Linked DNA regions of Homo sapiens: region 1 is linked to region 2. Evidence: fine-mapped expression QTL. A gene starts in region 2. The other region holds a variant in brackets. All regions are shown on one strand. Distances are from middle to middle.

What was found.
Region 1: its variant is fine-mapped to the expression of TMTC4 in whole blood (INTERVAL, PIP above 0.99).

The regions. Positions count from the first base shown.
Region 1 is chr13:100,725,022-100,728,040 of GRCh38, forward strand. All of the region lies in intron 1 of NALCN-AS1 (NALCN antisense RNA 1), which reads left to right. Among named protein-coding and RNA genes, the nearest start is that of NALCN-AS1, 18 kb to the left of the region's middle. The variant CAAA/C (reference allele first, on the strand shown) is at 1,487.
Region 2 is chr13:100,673,736-100,676,446 of GRCh38, forward strand. TMTC4 (transmembrane O-mannosyltransferase targeting cadherins 4) reads right to left here and starts at 1,060. Exons shown (of 19, transcript NM_032813.5): 1 at 1,009-1,060. RefSeq lists enhancers at 1-325, 1,651-1,730 and silencers at 441-520, 571-930, 961-1,460.

The sequences.
Region 1 (3,019 bases), 51 kb after region 2:
CAGTTTTGAACCATCTTCAGGACAGGAGATAACCGTATTCAAGGTTTTCTCAGTGTTCAATCTATATTGTTTCTGAATGGAGGAAATTTCTTGTACAGAGTGGTCGGGGAGATGGTCACTCTACAATTCATCAAGAGCTTAGCTGCCAAAAAATATCACCTTTGACGATCTCCAGCCTATCCTGAAAATTTCACCCTTTAAGTTTTATTTGTTTGTATACGTATTTTATATTTATACCATATCTATTTCCAAAGATGATTTGAGGAGCTATATACCATCAAGCCAGTTAAACAAGAGCCAAAAGCCAAAGCCTTATAATAAAACAAAAAAGAGATTTTTTCATCAGAAAATTTAGGCTGAGGAAAAATATGAAGTCCAAGAAAAAAATGAACTAAGATCTTTCTGGAGGCAACTGAAAAGGAGTTCATAACCAAAAGAAAGGAGGGGTTACAGACATCGAGTGTGTAACAGTAAGACAGCACTAATTCGTCATAGAAGGACAGGAATTTCCACCAGCAGAGCCCCTTAAGAAGGTTATCTGGGAGCGTGCGGAGGGCCCAAGCAATGTGCTGCAGCCCTGCCTCTTGGGTGCCTTTGCCTGCTAGTTACACTGGCTGGGGGAGGTGGGGAGAGCCCTGGCCACAGGGAGGTGCTCTCAGTGGAGGGGGCATGGCAAGTGTGGCAGCTGGGTGTCAACGTGGGGAGACCCAGGGGAACCCCACAGGCACATGAGAAGTGTAAGAAATGTTAGTTTCTTTTTTTCCCTCTCTGTTGATGTCCTCTTTAATTCAAGGCTTTGTATATGCGTGTTTAAACATTTCCAGGCAAAAATATGTTGGGGCTAAAACATTATTTCGTGGGGAGTGATTGGGAAAGTATGATATCAATTTTTTGAACTATTTTGAGCTTTGTGTGGCCTGTAATAGGGCTATTTTTTCAAGATATGAAGTGGGTATTTGAAAAAAATGCATATTCTCTGCTTTCGGAAACAGAGAACGTTAGTTGTTTAGTCTTGTTAATTGTGTACATAAACTCCTATGGATTTTTGTTTGCTTATTTTTGGTCTGCTTGAAGAATATATTTCAAAAGAGGCATGTTAAGACTGCTTTCTTCAAAAATTTTTGCTTTAAAAGATTTTTTCAAAAATTTACACCACCTCCCCATTGTACATTTTTAAGTTGGCATTTAAAAATATTCACTGTAAGGCTGGGCGCAGTGGCTCATGCCTATAATCGCAGCACTTTGCGAGGCCAAGGTAGGCGGATCACCTGAGGTCAGGAGTTTGAGACCAGCCTGGTGAACATGGTGAAACCCCATCTCTATTAAAAACACAAAAAATTAGCCAGGTGTGGTGGTAGGTGCCTGTAGTCCCAGCTACTCAAGAGGTGGATGCAGGAGAACAGCTTTAACCCAGGAGGTGGAGGCTGCAGTGAGCTTAGATTGCACCTCTGCACTCCGGTCTGGGTGGCAGAATGAAACTTTGTCT[CAAA/C]AAAAAAAAAAAAAAAAAAAAAAAAAATTTGACTGTAAGTTTAAATGGTTCAAAAGAATGTAATGTTTGAATAATATTAATAGTAAATATAATATGTTTCAATTTCTAAATTTTGGATGCTGTGTAGCGAGAGTTCAGATAATGAGGGATTTACCCAAACTCTGAGTCTATTTGGTTCCTGAATTCACAAGGTATGAATTTGGATGGAGATGGGGGTATCTATATTGAGATTAAAAAAATTATTAGGGTTTATTTTCTTCTCTAGAGATTTGCAGATAGATGGTTGGTTACCTAAATTCAGCGGCTCAAGAATGTCAGAAGACTCCCAAGCTGCCTGATATGGTTTGGCTGTGTCTCCACCCAAATCTCATCTTGAATTGTAGTTCCCATAATTCTCTTGTGTTGTGGGAGGGACCTGGTGGGAGATAATTGAATCATGGGAGCGGTTTCTCTCTACTGTTCTCATGGTAGTGAATAAGTCTCACGAGATCTCATGGTTTTATAAGGGGAAACCCCTTTTGCTGGGCTGTCATTCTCTTCTCTTGTCTGCTGCCATGTGAGATGTGCCTTTTGCCTTCAGCCATGATTGTGAGGCCTCCCCAGCCACGTGGAACTCCATTAAACCGCTTTTTCCTTATAAATTACCCAGTCTCGGGTATGTCTTTGTCATCAGCATGAAAATGGACTAATACCCTGCCTTTCAGCAATTCTGTACTATTTTATACCCTGACCAAAATCATATGCATGCCTCTTTCCCTATTCTCATTGTCAACAGTGTATGTTATAAACCTTTAGAAAGTTTTCCAATTTGAGTGAAAGAGTTATATGTTGTATTCATTTGCATTTCCCTGGTTAGCAGTGAAACTGCATGTCGTTTCATGTTTGTTTGGCTATTTAATGTATGGCACCCTCTTTGAATTGCCTTCTTGTCAATTTTGTCCAGTTTTCTATAAAGCAGTTAAAGTACAACTGTCAGAGCGAGAAAAATATCTGAAAGATAAATAACACTGTACAAATATCCATAATGCATAAAGGCTATATTGACATCTTAAATAATGATGTTATTATATTATAACTCACATACAGAAAAGTGAATAAAGCATAAGTGTACGGTTCATGAATTTCTACAAATTGAGCACACCTGTATAACCAGCACCCGGATTAAGGAACAAAGCATTACCAGACTCCCAGAAGCCTCCTGTCCCCTTTCCAGTCACTCCCTGCTCCATTCCAAGGATAACCAGCATCCTGACCCTTTTTTTTTTGATACACAGTTTTGCTCTGTTGCCCAGGCAGGAGTGCAGTGGTGAAATCTCAGCATACTGCAACTTCTACCTCATGAGTTCAAGCGATTCTCGTACCTCAGCCTTCCAAGTAGCTGGGACGACAGGCATACACCACCATGCCAGGCTAATTTTTATAGTTTTAGTAGAGACAGGGTCTTGCCTTGTTCACCAGGCTGGTCTTGAACTCCTGGCCTTAGGTGATCCACCTGCCTTAGCCTCCCAGAGTGCTGGGATTACAAGTGTG
Region 2 (2,711 bases):
CCACTGTCCCAGAAAGTTTCCAGTTTGCTAGCTTGTAGCCATTTCCCCTATCTAGGTGCACTGGCCGTGATTTTACCCCACTCCATCTGGGGCGCGCCCGGCGCAGACAGGACTGCAGAGAAAAGGGACAGGGAGGGGACCTAGTCAGTCCCTACTATAACTGTTTCTCAAGACATTCTCCCCATGCATTTATTTGCTCTCCCGGGGAAAGAGCGAAGTGTGGGATGACTCATAGTGGCTAGATCGTTCCTCTAACTCCTCCCTTCTTTTGTGTGTGGTTTAAAAAAAAGAAAAACACACACGCAGCCCATAGCCACAACATCAACAAGACCAGAAGCCCCGCAGAGTTCGCAGGAGGTGGGCAGTGGCTGCGCCACCTGCTCGGCTTCCCCAAACTCCGAGCCCACGCCGGGAAGCGGCGGCTCGGTGGCCCCGGGCGCCCGGGCCGGTGGCCCCGCGCTCGCGCCGCTCCGCTCCGCAGCCGAGCGTGGAGTAGCAGGCGCTCGCGGCGCGGCGGGGGAGCCGCCGCGGAACCCAGGGCAGGCGGCCAAGCGGCCCGGCTGTGTCCAGCCATCGCCTGCGCCGCGGCCAGCTGGCGGCCAGGCGCGGGGCCCCGCGGCCAGATGGCCGCTCCGGGGACGCGCCGCAGGCGCCGGGTGCGCCCGGGCCGAGGGAGCGCCGGCGCGGCTGTGCAGGCAGGGGCTGGGGGCGGCGACCTCTGCCCGGGCGGAGAAGCTCAGGGGCCCGAGCGCGGCGGGCGGGGCGCGCAGCCTCCACGCCGCGCCCTTTGTCCCATGTGCGGCTCACACAGGGGCCCGCGTCCCCCGTGACCCCGGCCCGGGCCGCAGCTCAGGTCCCGGAACCAACTCCTCCAGCAGCGCCGCTCTGGCCCGGGCCGCCGTGCGGGGCTCGGGACACGGCGGCAGCGGGGAACCCGCGCCCGCTCCGCGTCCAACTCCGCTCGCCCCGCGGCGCGCTCGGCCCTGCAGGGGCCGCCCCGCGCGTTACCTGCAAGGAGCCTGAGCCCCGGCCGCATCTCCCTCCCGGGTGCGGAAACTCTGGCGGCTCCAGGCACCCGCCCGGACCTGGCAGGGGGAGGGGCCGCCCGCCGCGCACCCGACCCCCCCCGCGCCGCGCCTCCCGCAGCTCCCCACGCGCGCGGGCGCCCCCCAGCACCAGTCTCGGCCCGCCCCCTCCGCCCGACCATTGGCTGCTGCTCCCGTCACTTTCAGGCCACAGCCAAGTCCCTCCTCAGCTCATTGGCGGACGCGCCGGTGACGTCAGGCCAGGGGGCGCTAGTCGGCGGCGAAGGAGGCGCAGGGACAGACGGACCCGGCGGGAGAGGAGGAAGCCGGGTTGTGGGCGCGGAGCTGAGGCGGAGGCGGGGCCGGGGCGGGAAGGGGCGGCCCCAGCTGGGTCGGGCGAGGCTGGCTGCGGGAAACCGAGTGAGCCCTCGCTTTTCCTCCGGGGTCCGCGCGCGGGACCCTATTTCTGGCCTGTCTCGCGCTTCGCCTGCGCGGTGGTCTCCACGCTGGGACTGCGGCGTCCTCGCAGAACAGCCAGAACTCCACTTCTTCCTGTCCGGGAGGAGTTGTTTAAAACATGCGTATCTCCACCTTCTGCTTCTTAGAACAGAACTGACTGAAGCCGTGTTCTTCCCGCCGAGACCATGCCGCCCCATCGACCCTGCTGCGGCCAGAGCCACCCAGGGCGGGCCCACTCACCGCAGGCTCGGGCCACTTGGTTCCAAACCTCCACTCCCATCCAGGGGCCCGGCACACCCACCACACTCCCACTCTCAGAGGTCTTTGCCGCCTGCTTCAGGAGAAAAGAGAAACTTCCACTTTCCACCGGCAAAACTGCACACCTGCTCCCTCCATCACCGAGCCCCCCCCCCCACCTTCTGTTTTTCCAGTATCGCAGAATCCGATCCGTTGCTCCCTCTGGACTGGAATCCGTATCCTCGGCATTTCATCATTCCAAGATTCTCTACTCCACGTACCCTTGCTGCCACCCTCTTCTACTTTCCATCGCTGAAGTTGGTGAAAGAGGCGCCTGCCCCCAGTTTTGTGGTCTCTCAACTCCACGTGTTCGTTTTCACACTCGGTGAAATTGCCTTTTTAATTGTCGCAAGTAGCATCCACATCACTAAAGTCAAAGGACACTCTCCTTTCTCGTGTTAACTGATCTGAGCAAAATTCCTTCTTTCTCCTTAAAACACGTCTTCCTGTGGCGGGGGTGCTCCACTTTCCTGTCTGTCCCCAGTCTTGGCGTGCTTGTCTACTCTGGGTGACCACCAAATAACAGAGTTTTCAAGGTCTCAGACCTTTCCTCTTACTCCACAATTTTTCCCTGAATGATTTAACCTGCTGTCAACATTTAAATCAATATATCCCAAATTTGCAACTCTAATCTTTGCTCCTCTGAGCTCCAAATCCGTTTATCTAGCTTCCTATTCAGCTACTCCTGGTAACAAGCACCTCAAATGGAACCCATCCAAAACTGAATGCGTCCTTTCCCTGCTTGCTTTCAACTCCCTGTCTCCCTGTGATAGTGAAGACACCACTATCCAGTGTTTCCCAAACTCTGCCTTCACCTCGGCATCTAACAAATCGCCAAGATTCTACTTCCTAAATAACTCTGAAGTCTGTCCACTTCCTACCATTTCCAGTATTACGTATCATAATGTGCTTACTGCACGTGCGTTTTCC